2 separate regions of the Homo sapiens genome follow, and region 2 is linked to region 1. Evidence: fine-mapped expression QTL. Tissue or cell type: esophagus mucosa. Region 1 holds a variant in brackets; the other region holds the start of a gene. All regions are shown on one strand. Distances are between the middles of the regions.

Region 1 (8,094 bases):
GTAATATTTAAATCTGACCCAGTACAAACACTTGCAAATTGGACTAGCCTTTTCAAAGGCAGCACGGAGCTGAACCCCACAGGGTCACTGCTTCCGTCTAATCACGGAAGAAATAAATCACTCTTTTGGAGAAGGACGTGGAGGGAAAAGTGCATTATCACAAAAAGTCCCAGTGCATCCTAGGACAGCACTGTTCTTTGAAATGGGTGAGTGGGTGTGTGTGTATGTGGTGTGTGTGTTCCAACCCAAGCTGCCTCACCTTCTGCTACTTGGGACAACACTAGGTACACATATGCTCCAGCTCACCGCCATGCTACTGCACTTTACTAAGTGGGTTGGCTCTAGCCCAAGACACAGCTCAACCCTGTGCCTGTCTCCCTGAACAAGGAAAATGCTCAAATGACTTTAGCAGCCACCACAAATAGGCCCCTGACTTTATAATCTTATGTGGTTGAAGTGTCTGGGGAGATGTTCCAAAAACATCCCGTTCCTTCCAGCCAATGAATGGTTTTGGCTAAACGTGGTGTGTGTTTGCGATTTTGTGCTTACAGATTTTTCTGGGGGAAGAGAGCTCCGTCTTTGTTTCTAAATTTAAGCCCAAACTAAATTAAGTCGTTGTGGGTTTGTCCAATTAGCTCCTCAGGGAATTGGCCAGGGAGGGGAGTCTGGTGGAGGAGAATGGAGACATGCATGTTTTCTGAAATTCACCCCTCTCTAAATATCTATCTGGAAGTATATTTTTCTAGCAAGGCTTATTTTAGTAATAGTAAAAAACATCTTGGGTTCTTAGCCCCTGTTCTCCAGATAAGCATTTATACCTGTCAGTTGCTTGGGCTCTATCCAGGAAATACCTGAGTTTTGATGCTGTTTTGTGATCATAACCAGCTTCCAGCCTCTCCTGAGGCCCCACTCCAAATGACTCAGTGTCTTCAACCCCCGATAATAAGAGCAAAAACAGAACCCCAGGCTGGTGGGCTTAGACCGAGAGAGATCCCATAAGAAGCCCCTGTGTGGGACACATGGATTCCAGGGTTGCTTTCCATTGGTGGGCTTCTAAGGAGATCTTATGAGCTACCCCTGGTGCCAGCCCAGTCATCCCAAAGCACGCAGGAATGTGTTCACTGGCAGTAACACTAGCAATCCCTCCCCTAGGCACATTTCACTAAAGTTCATAAAAAAAAGTGAGGGAGCCTGTGGCTTGGTTACCTGTAGACATGCTTTCCCCAGGGGACATGCCATCTAGCATGGGGGCCTCCGTGGACTGTGGACTAGAGGCCGAGAGGTTTACTGTGGGAGGCTGAGGAGGCGGCAGAGTAGGTCTCTGTCGCGGCTTAGGAGTGGGCCGCGATTTGCTCAAAGTGCTTGTAAAGACAGAAGGAGAGGCCAGGGGAGGAGCTGCAGCTGGGGAGAGCTGGCCCGAGGCCAAGGAGTACCCCTGAGGGTAGCTCAGTCCATAGGGTGACGGGGTGCTGGGCGGGGTGGGGGACAGGCTGACTGGGGACGGCTGGCCAGCGGACTGGTCTGCCATAGCCCCCGGCTGGCCAAAGGGGACCTTGGGTGGAATCGGTGCCAGCTTCTTTGAAACTGAAAGAGAAAACACAACACAACAACAAAACACAAAGTTGTTGAATGAAGCCACTTGTGGGGCCTGTTCACACACCCTTCAGCGTTCAAAGCTGTCCCCACCTCCTGCCCCTCGCCACCCACCCACACCTCCCTGCCCTGCCCCCCGGCCTCTTGCCACATTGACAGCAGCCAATACAATTTTTAAAAATTAACCGAGAACTGCAAGTTTTCCTATCTTCCCATCTGTTAACTAATTTTTCCTCCTCTTTTCTGGATTTCTGCCCTGATCTACACACGCACACCCAGCCAAACTAGAGAACAAATTTCCCATCCACAGGAGTGGGCTGCCTTCCCAGTGGTGAGAGGCATCGCTGCTACTCTCTGAGCAAGAGTGAGTCAGTGGGGCAGGGTCCAGCAGAGGATGACTCCAGTTCAATTTGCTGTAATGGACAGAGGAGCCCTGACACAGGGGCAGGTCCTCGGGATAGAAAACTGACTTTTGGCTGAACCTGTCCAGTGGCTTCTGGCTCCCCTAACAGTGATATGTGAGCAAATCCTCCGGCCACAGAACCCCTGTTCCTTCATTACTTTATATGCTGTGCCTCAATCCTGCATCCCTGCTGCTGAGGCTTTCTTCTCATTCTTGTTTCTTCCTAGAATTGTACCCGCTGGTCTAAGCATGTATGGATCGACTGCATTTTTCGTTGTTTTTCTGGGGTTTTTTTGTTGTTTTTTTTTCTTTTGGAGACGGAGCTTTGCTTTTGTCGCCCAGGCTGGAGTGCAATGGCGCGATCGCCGCTCACCACAACCTCCGCCTCCCAGGTTCAAGCAATTCTCCTGCCTCAGCCTCCTGAGTAGCTGGGATTACAGGCGCCCACCACCACGCCTGGCTAATTTTGTGTTTTTAGTAGACACAGGGTTTCTCCATGTTGGTCAGGCTGGTCTTGAACTCCCAACCTCAGGTGATCCGCCCGCCTCGGCCTCCCAAAGTGCTGGGATTACAGGCGTAAGCCACCACGCCCGGCCAATCAACCGCATTTTTCAAAGTACATTATTGCCCTGACCTCCTTTGCCTTACCTTCATTATCCTTTTCCCAATCTCCCTATAGGATGACAAATCCATTATACCTTTAATTGAAAATGAATTGGTAAAGACAATAAATTCAAACGTCCAGGAGATACTTGATGGGCAAATATCTTGAGAGAGTGATCACTAACCTGTTAGGCTTAAGTGAGGACTGGCTGTGTGTGGGTCTGATTCCTTTTTTTTTTTTTTTTTTTTTTAAGATGGAGTCTCGCTCTGTCACCCAGGCTGGAGTGCAGTGGCGCGATCTCGGCTCTCTGCAAACTCCGCCTCCCGGGTTCATGCCATTCTCCTGCCTCAGCCTCCCAAGTAGCTGGGACTACAGGCGCCTGCCACCATGCCCAGCTAATTTTTTGTATTTTTGGTAGAGATGGGGTTTCACTGTGTTAGCCAGGATGGTCTCGATCTCCTGACTTCATGATCCACCTGCCTTGGCCTTCCAAAGTGCTTGGATTACAGGCGTGAGCCACGGTGCCCAGCCATGTGTGTGGGTCTGATTCTAGAAGGAATTATCTTGTAAGTCCTAAGGGAGAGGTCAGAAGCTCTTCCTTCTCCCCACCCCACCCCCACTCCCTCCAAGGAACAAGGTCTGTTAGGAGGACACCTCATGTATTCTCTGGGTGTGTCAGTCTGCAGTGTGGACAGAAGGACATGCCCTTCAGAATCCTACCAACGTGGGCTCAAATTTCTATCCTGCCACTTACCC[G/A]CTGTATTCCCTGGGTCAACTTATTCAAACATCTTCTATGCAATTGGAGGAAAAAGATTTTCTCTGCAGCAGTGTAATAATTAAATGAGATCATACATGTCAAGTACCACATAATCATGACATAATAAAACCACTTAACTTTCCAATTTCACTTTTCAACTCTACTTCCTGAGTACAGGGGAAGTGCTTCCAGCAGCTGCTACTGCAGCTCATGGCAGCCACGTGGTCATGGGTGACAGACGCAGGGGTACCCCTGGATGAGAAGCAGGTGGAGACCCTAGGTATCAATGCTTGCACATGCCTTCTCACGAAGGAGCTGGGGGACAGAGGATGCATCACCATGTCTGTGATGACATTTACCACTTCCGGTGGTGACAGGAATAGGATGTGAAATTGTCGGCACGCTGTCAGAAGACTGAGGTGTCAAAAAAAAAAAAATTAAAAAAAAAGACCTGCTAAGTGTGCCATCTGTGGGCATGATGGGGAGTAGAGAAGAAATGTATACCTTTCAAAAGATGGGTCTGAGCTATTGAAGGTCACTTGGGAAAGGGACCTGAGTCACTCTAGGCTACACTGGCTGCCTAGGTCCAATGTGCTGCAAAAACGAAAAGGGTCAACCTGTCACTGGCATTAGGAGGCTGGGTGGCTGCTACAGGAGCCCTGGCTCTCCCACTGGACGAGACAATGACTTAGCCATCACCCCTGTATTGTAGTGCTGTGGGGAAAGTTAAAGGACTCTTTTTTTTTGGAGACAGAGTTTTGCTTTGCTGCCCAAGCTGGAAGGCAGTGGCACGATCTTGGCTCAGTGCAACCTCCACCTCCCAGGTTCAAGCAATTCTTGTGCCTCAGCCTCCTGAGTAGCTGGGATTACAGACGCCCACCACCACGCCCAGCTGATTTTTTTATATTTTAGTAGAGACGGGTTTCACCACGTTGTCCAGTCTGGTCTCAAACTCCTGAGCTCAGGCAATCTGCCCATCTCAGCCTCCCAAAGTGCTAGGATTACAGGCAGGGGCCACTGCGTCCGGCCAGTTAAAGGACTCTAAAACAAAGAGGTGCCTGGCCGGGTACAGTGGCTCACGCCTGTAATCCCAGCACTTTGGGAGGCCGAGGTGGGCAGATCACCTGAGGTCAGGAGTTCGAGACCAGTCTGGCCAACATGGTGAAACCCCATCTCTACTGAAAATACAAAAATTAGCCAGGTGTGGTGGTAGACGCCTTTAATTTCAGCTACTTGGGAGGCTGAGGCAGGAGAATCGCTTGAACCCAGGAGGCGGAGGTTGCAGTGAGCCGAGATTGTGCCATTGCACTCCAGCCTGGGGCACAAGAGCAAGACTTCGTCTCAAAAAAAAAAAAAAGACATAACCAAGAATATGGCATCTAGACCAAGGAGAAACCATTGGTGCTGGAGAAATGCTCTGAGATGCTGAAATCTCACGCCGGCACTTTGGCCCAACTCCTATTCAACCTTCACGATGTCGTTTCCGCTGGGCCACCTGTCCTAACTCCTGAGTCGAGAAAGCATGCTCCCAGGTGTCCTTACAGTACCCTGAGTGTCTCCCAGCACAGTGCCAACACCTTTGCCTTATCATTGCCTTCCTCTCTGGAAAGCACAGAGCTCTGTACATAGCAGGATTTAATAAATTTGTGTAGAATGCAAAAGGAATGAGTAGGGATCGAATAAGATCCACGGGCTTGGTGAGGGCAGACAAAGAGAATGAAACTGCCACTGCAGATCGGAACTAAGGGGGCTGGAAAAGGGCCTGTCATGAAGGCACATGTGGATGAGCTAAATCCGGGCCCTATTCGACAAATCCAGGAGTTAAAAGCCGCTCCTAGAAGTGCGAGTGGTCTGAAATTAGAACACACAGGATGATGTATTATTTTAGACGAGTGAAAGACTCTGCAAAGAGATGACACAGGTAAGAACAAACCAAAAAGGTTCAGATAAGTACGCTCAGTACAGCTCCCCATTTATGAAATGTCACATGGAGCATACCTTTAGCTTTTGGAAGTGATTATCTGAAGAGATAATAACTGGTCAGTGTGGCCATTCTTGGGCCATTCAGAGCTGAGACTCAGGTACTACAGAAGCTATCCTGACTCCCTCCTGTCACCCTGTACGAGTGATCTAGGGGTAGGCAGCTGTGCCAGGCTGCCCTGCGGGGAAGGAGACTCCTGTAGATGACCCTATACAGCTTTTCAAATGACAGAGGTAGGGCCCGGCAGGTCTCTGGAAAACACACATCATTGTGGACAATGAATTTTGCCCTGGTGGCATCATTTGGTGTATGGGAAGCACTGGCCTCTATACGCCCCTAATGAGCCCACCTGTCAAATAAGTAAACTGAGGAATAATAGAGAAAGGATCCCTTTTAACTTCCAAAGCTCTAATGTCCAGATGGGAATTAGTCACTAAACCACACAGTTTCTCAATATCCAAGTTCATAGAGGAAAACGAGCCTTCAGGGAATGTCACAGCCACCTCCGGCCTGAGACCAAGGAGAAGGGAAGCAGGGCCATACCTTTCCGGAGGGTGTGAGGACTCTGGTCTGCAGGCGGCTGGCTGGGGCTGGGGCTGGCGCCCGGCTGAGCTCCAGGTTGAGCCCCTGGTTGAGTCCCTGCACAGGCTGTGCCCTGGCTGGAGCCTGGACTTCCTTTCTGTGCAGAGCCTGGAGAAAGTTCCTTGCTTTTTGTTGTGCTGAAACGAAAGCACATGAGACAAAAGAAAAGCCCTGAACTCAGTGAGCGGCAGCACCAGCCTTGCCGATGGCCACCCTGTGTGTCCTTCTGGGCCCCGTGCAAGTCTGTCCCAGCTCTGGTCTGTCTTGGCCCCTTCCTAAAACCTTCGCAGGTGCCCCTTGGGGTGACTGCCCTTCCTGGAGCTCTGATGGCCTGGGTTCTGCCCCCATCTCTGTGGCACTTGGCACTCACTGCCAATGCCCTTTTCATGCCTCTGCCCTCCTCTCTTCAAGGAGACCGTGAGCAATGTGAGGGCAGGGGCCTGAGCACCTCTACCGTATCCTGCCATCAACCCAGGAATTCTAGAACATTCTCAAACTGGAACACCAAAGTGCTTTTCCTACTGTAGCCAAGAGGACTTCTCAGGGCCACTGTGCCCAACGAGTGCTGATGACACGGACTCCTGCTGCCAAGCTTGTGGCCCAGCTCTCCAGCTGTTTGCCCTGAGCCTCCAGCCACCCCCCAGGCAGGAGGGATTCTAGGACTCATCCTCAAACTCAATACCCATTCCAGCAGAAGCTAGGGTGGACAGAAATCCAGGCCATGCCCTTAAATGTGGGCCAGTTTGAGTCCCAGTCCCAGGCTTCAAGAGAGGTGAAGGTCGATGGCAGTGAGGGCTCTGGCCTCTGACCTCTGGAATTGACAATGAGGCACCCTAGGTCACCAGGTTTCCTAAAGAGGATTCATCGTTACTGCAAGGCTGTTCCTCAGCCTTCTTCTGAGGATGAAGCACGTATTAGAAGACACCTCACTCTACACCACAAACCAGGGATTTGTCATCCTGATACGCTGATGGTAGATATTACTAATTGATCTCCACACTTCCCCCACAGTGTTCTCAATCCTTTCCAAGAAAATTCTCCAGGTGGCCTTTAGTGAATCAGGGGAGATGCCCCACAGTTGGGAGCCATCTGTCATCCGTGCTAGAACCTACCTGGATTCTGATGCCCACAGGTGGGGCATGAAGAGTCTGGGAACCCAAATCCTCTGCAATGGCTGTTTCTATCCCACAAGAGCAGGCACAACCTGGGCCGGGCATGGTGGCTCATGCCTGTAATCCAGCACTTTGGGAGGCCGAGGCAGGCAGGTCACCTGAGGTCAGGAGTTTGAGACCAGCCTGGCCAACATGGCGAAACCCTGTCTACACTAAAAATGCAAAAATTAGCTGGGCGTGGTGACATGTGCCTGTAATCCCAGCCACTCGGGAGGCTGAGGCAGGAGGATGGCTTGAACCCGGGAGATGGAGGTTGCAGTGAGCTGAGATCGTGCCACTGCACTCCAGCCTGGGCAACAGAGGGAGACCCTGTCAAAAAAAAAAAGAAAAAAGAAAAAAGAAAAGAAAAAAAAAAGGCAGGCACAGCCTATTTCTTTCCTAAACTGATCTAGAAACTCCAGGTGTTAATTTGGAGAAAATTCCAATAGGAATAGAGCACTCTCGTCCACTGAGGTGAGAAAGACTGGGAGCAGGGAGCTGGGCCGGGGAAGCCCATAGCGTCAAAGCACAGGTCATTTTCCTCATGCAAAGAAATAAAAGGAAGATCACATTCAATGTGGAGGCACATTCTCTCCCACTTGGGATGAGTCTTACACACTATACCTAGTTCCCCAAGGGGCAAAAACCATTTTATTCAGAGGAACCAAAAGAGCAGTAATTCCTTTCTCTATTCTGTTCATGAAAAACAGAAACAGAAAACCCTTGCCTCACTCAGGCTGGACAAGGACCTCAGGCTGCAGGTTACCAGGTACCCGGGCATCAATGCCAAATATCTACCTACCCTTCCATCTATCTCTGCCACTATCAAGAGGAAGGCCAGTCAACCAATCAAAAACATCTCATAATCAGCAAACTAAAAAATTGCTTCTTGTGGGTGGGTAGACTCTTCTTCCTTCCTTTGGACACACATCTATCCAAGGAATCTAGGAATGAGCTCTTCCTTCTGTTCCCTGCCACGAAACACACTTTTTTTTTTTTTTTTTTTTGAGATGGAGTCTTGCT
Region 2 (8,086 bases), 190 kb after region 1:
TCCTACATTGTTAAAATGACTTTAAGTTTTATATTCAGAACTCCAGAACCTGCAACTTAGGGAAGGCGAGCCATGAGGAAGGACTTTCAAGTCCTCTTAGTCCTCCCTCGGAAAGAGGAAAACTTTAGAAAAATATAAGGATAAAAATCAAGTGCTTTATAACTGCACACCTAAAGTCCAAATTCCAATCCTATGTGCTTCTACTGATTTAAGAAATTAACAGGCAACCGCGGGCTCTTTTACTCCAATACTCATAGGATCATGACCCAAAACATTCTCAATAATAGAGGAGATACTGCCCCTCTCGCTGACCCTCACGGACCCTGGGGTAAACCGTTTTAATCTCGGCAATCAACACCGATTGAGAGTCAGTAGTCTAAACGGCATTGCACTATCTACACAGGCATACAACAGCAATCAATAGATTCTGCTGGAAGCAGACAGACAAGAAAATAAAAAATAAAAGCGTTTCAATCAGTGATGAGTGCTGTCCAGAAATGAAAAAATGATGAGCTGGAGGTAAATAGGGGAGGAAGGGCCTCTTGAAGGCCTTGGAACCAAGACTGAAATGATGAGAAAAAGCTACTTGGAAGGAGCACATTCTCAGCCAAGCAAAAAACAAAAAAAATGGGAAAACAGTAAAAACGAAATCCTCAAGGTGGATATGAGCTCAGTGTGTTTGGGGCAAGAAAGGCCACACGGCTAGAGCTCCATGAATGTGAAGAGATGAGAATGGGGAGAAAAAGAGTTAAGAAAAAAGGCCAACCAAGGATGGTCCTGTAGAACCCTGGCAAGATATGAGATGCTAAGCACAATCAGATGTCGCTGGAAGCTTTTCAGCAGCAAGGTAACATGAACTGGTTTTTGCTTTAAAAGGCTTGCTCTGGATTTCATCAAAAGCGATACAGGCTGGCCCTCACCTGGCCCAGTGCACAACACAATGGCTACCAACGGAGAAAGGCAGAATTCATCCATAGGCCAACATCCACCAGAGCCCCAACAAAGAAGAGGAAAGAACCTCTTGGTAACCAGCTGCTTGGACTTCCAAGAACGTGCTCTCAATACCTAAGACCACTTTTTCTGAAATCCAACCTCCCCTCACCATTTTGCATTCCCCCCATGGATGAGGCTGAAAAATAAGATATGATGCCATGGCGCAAAAATCTCCCCCATTTAAAAACAGGTCCTGAAAAAAAGAAGAATTGTGTTTCAGGAAGGCCAGGGAGGAGGCATAAACATGTTCTGAACATTTAGATTCTAGCACGGCACTGAAACCCCAAGACCAAGAGAAACCAGCAACCCAAGTCTAGTGTCAGGGGCCTCCTGGTCACTTGGCTGGTCTGAGGTGATGGCCAATGCCCGCCTGCAGGGTGACGAAGAAGCCAAGACATTAAAGACGGGTCGGCTTGACTGTCATCTGCTAAACAACGAATACCAGGAAACACTATCTCGGCATCCAACACATCAAAAGGCAGTCCACGTGAGGCTATATCTGTGGCAATACCATGCCAGAAATCTGGGCTAATCTGACTCTGCTATTCATAAATTCCCCCTCATGTTAAAGCACATGTGTTTGGGAAGGAAAAATGAATCCAAGTCAATTTTAGACATTGTTACTTGGAAACCATCTGGAGTCCCTGGAAGCATAAGAAGCCACCGCATCCCCTGCCCTCAAATGCCCACTGTAACTAGGGCAGTATGCTCAGACGGGAGTTCAGATGTCCCCTATTCCCCAGGGATGTCCCCACCCCCATCCTACCAGATGCCAGTTCAGGCTCCACTTCCCACCCAAGAAAGGTATTCGGTTTCTCCGTAAACCTAGTGGAGAGCCCTCGAGGTGTTGAGCTTGCATTTGAACTGCACCCAAGGCTGGATTCTTTGCTTTCTGATTGCTTTAGAACAGCACACCTGAATTCCTTTGCCACAGCAGCAACGGAAATCCCTCCCCAGGAGTAGGGGTTCCAGGAAAAATCCCTTCTACCTAACGCTCCTGTGTTCAAAGAATGTCTAGTCTTGGGAGCGACCCACCAGGATTTTTATGTAACCTTAATAGATGTTGGCACCCTGCAGAGCCGCTCCTGGAGTCCAGATGTAGCCCATTTTCACCGTGATGGCAGCAGGCGGGGTCTTGCAGCTTCCCGGGGCCTGACTCTTCTGACTGTGGGGCCTCTGTCCCCCTCCCCTACCTGGCTGCGATTCTCTGCTTATCTCATCTTCCCGAGGACTTGGGCCTCCTTTTTGCAGCCTCCCTCCCTCCACTGAAATCAGTCCTAACATCAAGCAGGCAGCAACGCCATTCCACCAGCACCTTCCTTCCTCTCCCACCCCTCACCCTTTCCCCCCACCAAACGCCTTAAGAAACCCGGCCAGGAAAGTGATCCAGAATCTCGTACAGTCATAGTCCCTGAAAACAAACACGGCGGGAGGGGCAGGCCGACCAGGCCCAGCACTTTCCCTGGACCCGGGAGCAGCCCTGAACTCGGCGCAGGGGAGGGGAGGGAAGAGATCTCCGGAGACCGACTGCGGTTCGGCTGCCTCCAGCACAATCAGAGCAAACACCTGTTTCCAGGAAGACAGGCGGCCAGAGGGAGAAGGGAGTCCCGGGGAAAGGCAGGGAGGACGAAGCGAAGGGGCAGCCGGGGACGCAGGTAAAGGATGCGTCACACTTTGCGCTTGGCAACCGGAGCCCGGAGCAGAAGGCGGCGAGTGAGAAGAGCTCCGGGGTCTGGGAAGTTAGGGAGGAGGGGTCGCGCCTGCGAGCGGCGCCTGGAGGGAGCTGGTGCAGGGGAAAGGACTGAGGCAAGGAGGACTGGAGGCTGGGCGGGCTCCATCACCTGCGCGCCCCTGCGGATGCAGCCTCGCGGGCGCGCACCGACAGCGGTGCCCGCGGGTGACCTACCTGCCCACCGTCTGGTTGGCCAGCTGGCGCATGCGATTGAACTGCTTCTTCATCGTGGCCCCGCTGCCGCGCTAGCCCGGGAGCTGGGGAAGGACGGAGCAGCCCGGAGCCCGCCGCAGGGTTACATGGCTCCCGCGCGGAGCCTCCCGGGCGACGGCGGCGGCACTGCGGAGCCTCCGGGCGCCGTCTGGCCCGCGCGCAGCTCCCTCCCGAGGGCGCCGCCGCCTACTCCTCCCGCCGCGCCGCCTCCTGCCGCATCCCCCTCACGCGCGCCGCGCAATGCCCGGGGCAGAGCAATGCCTGGGGCCGTCCTCGGCACCGGCCCGCTCCGCCCGGGCTGCCTGCTCCCAGTCCCAGTCCGGCGCGGGGACCCGGGAGTCTCCGCAGGCTGGCTGGCCGGCTGGCCCGGCGGTCCCCGTGCGCCTGTGCGGAGAACGCCGTGCATGCCGGGACTTGTAGTTTCGCGCCCCGTGCCCACCTTTCCTCTGTCCAAAGTTTGCAAGGACAGTGGAGTGCGGAGGTGGGAGAAGGCAGCGTCACCAGCAGCTTTGCACTTTAGCGTTCGAGTAAGGGAAACGTTTTCCTGTTTTAAAAATGGCAAAGTGGGACCAAGAATACAACAGCAAATAAAGAAAGTGAGCATCTGTCTCTCATTGTATTTTTAGTGAATGTGAGGTATCAGTGTTCTGAATTCACAGAAGGGAGATTTATGCTAGCAGATACGTGGCTGATAAAACGGTCTAAGGTCACCTGATTAATGATGAGGTTCAAGGTTAAGCTTGAAACACAGGGGCTGACAGCAGATTTTGAACAGGCATAGCTTGCATCCCAGAAGTCTGATTCTTAATTTTTACCAAACCAAACCCATTAGGTAACCAGAAGCCAATATAGATAAGTGACGTTGTGCTTACTGGCCCAACCTGTCTGAGACAGCTTTTTTGTATGGCTTAGATGCCAATCTCGTATCTAGTCCCATTTCCCTTCCACCACCAGGAGACCAAGGGGCATCAGCTGCAGCACCCCCCAAGTGTCCTGCACCACAGCATCCCATTGGCGTCAGTTGACTCCTTGGAAGGGGTTGTGGCTTCTTTGGTCTCTATCCTTAGAAAAAGATAGGTGAGCCGGGCGCGGTGGCTCACGCTTGTAATCCCAACAGTTTGGGAGGCCAAGGAGGGTGGATCACGAGGTCAGGAGTTCGACACCAGCCTGGCCAACACAGTGAAACCCTGTCTCTGCTAAAAATACAAAAATTAGCTGGGCGTGGTGGCGGGCACCTGTAATCCCAGCTACTTGGGAGGCTGAGGCAGGAGAATAGCTTGAACCTGGGAGGTGGAGGTTGCAGTGAGTGGAGATCGCGCCATTGCACGCCAGCCTGGGTGACAGAGCTAGACTCCATCTCAAAAAACAAAAAAAAAAGAAAAGAAAAAAAAGAAAAAGATTGGTGATTGCAGTTAGGTTTTATCATTATATATCAAGGTTTTATCATTATATATCAAGTAAAAGCAGTATTGTTGGGTGTGAGGCACTTTGGATTAAACAGATAGGAGTTCCTGCATCAGAATTCCACATACCTGTTATATAACCTTAGGAAAACAGCTTAACCTCTCCAAACCTCTGTTTCCTCATCCCTAAATAGAAAAATATGCTGCCTGATCTTCAGTAAGAGAACTATTTGTTAAATTACAATAATCAAATTACATATAAATTTTCATATAGTACATTGCCGTATTCATTTACTACAAAATGATTATATTTAGCATAATAGAGAAAAATCCTGTTCATACAACAGAATTACTAATCTTATAAAGGAAGGATCTTCTTTGAAATAGGATATTTTGCATATGTTGATTATAGTTGCAAGATGTCCTAAATATGGCTCTAAGTATCTTGCTGGCTAGCTGAACAAAAAGTGGTTTGAGGCATGTCTTGGCTGAATGAACATGAAATCTTTAATTAATTGTGAATTTAGCCTCTGCTTATTAGGTCAGACAACTCCAGCCAGTGAATAAATGAAGGCATTATTTGCTTTTAACCAACTATGCTGTACCTATAATGTCAATATGATGTCTATATTAAGTGAAATTATTTCCATTTTGAGATTTTTTAAAAAGCAAAGTACAACATGCTTTTTATGTGTATAAACGGTAAGACATTAAGGTCACTGTATGACTTTTAGCAACACTATCTCTGGTAACTTCCAGAACTGCACTGTTGAATATAGTATCCCCTAGCCACATGTGGTTGTTGCAATTTAAGTTAATTAAAGTTCAAAATTTGGTTCCTCACTTTTGCACTGTTGGTGGGATTGTAAATTACTTCAACCATTGTGGAAAACAGTGTGGCAATTCTTCAAGGATCTAGAACTAGAAATACCATTTGACCCAGCAATCCCATTACTGGGTATATACCCAAAGGATTATAAATCATTCTGCTATAAAGACACATGCACATGTATGTTTATTGTGGCACTGTTCACAATAGCAAAGACTTGGAAACAATCCTAATGCCCATCAATGATAGACTGGATAAAAAAAAATGTGGCACATTTTCACCATGGAATACCATGCAGCCATAAAAAAGGGTGAGTTCATGTCCTTTGCAGGGACATGGATACAGCCATTAAAAAGGATGAGTTCATGTCCTTTGCAGGGACATGGATGAAGCTGTAAACCATCATTCTCAGCAAACTAACACAGGAACAGAAAACCAAACACCGCATGTTCTCACTCATAAGTGGGGGTTGAACAAAGAGAAAACATGGACACAGGGAGGGGAACATCACACACCGGGGCCTGTCGCGGGTAGGGGCAAGGGGAGGGATAGCATTAGGAGAAATACCTAATATAGATGATGGGTTAATGGGTGCAGCAAACCACCATGGCACGTGTATACCTATGTAACAAACCTGCACGTTCTGCACACATATCCCAGAACTTAAAGTTTAATAAAAAATAAAATAAAATAAAAACAGAATTTAGTTCCTCGGTCACCCAAGTCACATTCGAAGTACTTAAGAGCCACATGTGGCTAAAGGCTACTGTACTGGACAGCACAGATAAAGAACATTACTATCCTCTCAGAAAGTTCTACTTGTTAGCACTAATCCTCAAGAACTCTGGTAGCCAACTCCAATATCATGCCAGCCCCTGCCTTCAATCCCAAGATTTTTCCGTTCCAAAGGGAAATCCCTTTGGCAGCCTCCCCTGCCAGAGTGTGGTCCAATAATGTTTTATTAACTGGTGGCTTCTCCACAGATTTTCTGTCTTCCTTTGAATGCTTCCTTCACTCAGGAAGCAGCTAGTACATTTTCTGCTTTCTACCCCGGGGAAGGGATAATAGTGCAGAAACAAGAGCTTCAGAAACACATGTGACAGAATAGAGTTCTTCAAGAAAAGAGTTTTGAGTTTCCAGAATACAGGCTTTGGAGCTTTAATAGTCTATGTCAGAAATAGTAGATTATAAAGCATATATCATCCTGCTTAGTCTAAATAAAGAACCTACAGGCTGTGAGATGTTGAAGATGGTGATGGGGACTGGAAAGCGGGAGAGAAAGAGAGAAGAAAAGTAGATGATGCTTGTGCAGATACTATTAATGCCCAAAAAATTTCACTGCCAATCCCTATGGGAAGGACTCTATTTTACCTTACTGTTGAGGTAAAGATCGGTCATGTGATTTTCTTTGAACAATGAATATGCACAGAGGTGACTTTTACGCTTCTTCTGAGGGCAGAAGTTTCAGGAGTCATTTTGTGATCCTGCCCTCTTCTTCTTAACGCTGCCAATGAACCAGTTAGGGGATGCTGTGGAACAGTGATGTGGCCCCCCAGCAAAAGGTATCTTTGCTGTTTTAAATCAGAGGTTTGTTGCTGTAACATAATTGAGTCTAAGCTGACTGCTACAGTGGGTTTCTCTGAGAAAGTAGCATGCACCTTGCTTTTACCCATGGTCAACAATTAGGTTGGGGGCAGGCAGACTGAAGACAGATATATCATATCGTTTTGGGGCATCTGAGCACAGTGGAGAAGCTGTACACCACTCCTGGAGTGAAGGCTAGGCATGGCCAAGCTTGTGGAGATCCTCTGCCTTCTAAGACAGAGGACCAGTAAGACATCTATATGAAGTGCCTCAGGTACCCATACCACAGGCTAGTGGCAGCCCCAGAGCTCCCTGCACCCAAGCCATGTGCGATGATTTGGTGTCTGCATGTGTGCTGTGAGGATACACAAATGTACCTGAAACAGCTGGATGTGAAAGCTATTGAGATCAAAGATGATGATCAGGAGGAGGAGGCAGCATTGGCCAAGATGGAGATGGAATTGCCTAAAACTTAATTTTTGCCACCTAGAAGAATAGACTTAATATAAAATTTAAATGTATTTGCAAAAGAAGAGGAGGAGGTGAGGAAGGACGGTGGGAAGGGGAAAGAAGAGGAGAAAAGAAGAAAGAAATTTCTATGTCTTATATACCTAGCTTTGACCTATGGGAAGATTACACTTCCCTGCTCCTGTTGACCTTGACTTTGACCTTGTCACTTGCTTTGGTCAACAATATATGGGCTTCTTACTTGCTTCAGCAACATTGTAGTACTATTTGTCTGAGATATGTTCCCTTAGAAATCTGATACTCCATTTAGAATCCCCTGAATTAGAATGGTTTTAACCTCTACTCTGAGAGCAAGCATTCACTAGAGCCACCTGGCCAACATGGGAATCATTAGCTACATGTGGTTACTTAAATATTATTTTAAATTAGGTTAAATAAAACAAAAATTTCAGTTTTTCATTTCAAGTGCCCAATAACTACATGTGGCTAGTGGCTGCCGTAGTAGAGAATGTAAAATAACATTTTCATCATCATAGAAAGCTCCATTGGACAGGGCTGGTCTACAGAACAGAATTCAGAATAACCTCATGTGTCACTTAATGACAGGGATATGTTCTGAGAAATACATTATTAGGTGATTTTGTTGTTGCAAAAACATCATAGAAAGTACTTACACAGCCAGGCGTGGTGGCTCACGCCTGTAATTCCAGCACTTTGGGAGGCCAAGGCAGGTGGATCACCTGAGGCCAGGAGTTCGAAACCAGCCTGGCCAATGTGGTGAAAACCCGTCTCTACTAGAAATACAAAATTTAGCTAGGTGTGGTGGTGGGCATCTGTAATCCCAGCTACTCGGGAGGCTGAGGT

Alleles and levels. Alleles are on the strand shown, and positions count from the first base shown. SD is a standard deviation of normalised expression in the study named.
With allele G in place of A in region 1, the expression in esophagus mucosa of the gene that starts at base 3,293 in region 2 is higher (small effect, 0.22 SD a copy in GTEx).

What was found. PIP is the estimated chance that this variant, and not a neighbour inherited with it, causes the effect.
Region 2: ARHGAP44 starts here. The variant in region 1 is fine-mapped to the expression of ARHGAP44 in esophagus mucosa (GTEx, PIP 0.91).

What each region holds. Positions count from the first base shown.
Region 1 is chr17:12,978,021-12,986,114 of GRCh38, reverse strand. ARHGAP44 (Rho GTPase activating protein 44) reads right to left here. Exons shown (of 21, transcript NM_014859.6): 19 at 5,882-6,057; 20 at 1,207-1,584. Among named protein-coding and RNA genes, the nearest start is that of ELAC2, 36 kb to the left of the region's middle. The variant G/A (reference allele first, on the strand shown) is at 3,357.
Region 2 is chr17:12,784,705-12,792,790 of GRCh38, reverse strand. It overlaps ARHGAP44 (Rho GTPase activating protein 44), which reads right to left and starts at 3,293. Exons shown (of 21, transcript NM_014859.6): 1 at 2,900-3,293. The coding sequence starts at 2,952. ARHGAP44-AS1 (ARHGAP44 and MYOCD antisense RNA 1) reads left to right here and starts at 2,507. Exons shown (of 2, transcript NR_104607.1): 1 at 2,507-2,648. RefSeq lists a silencer at 3,017-3,366.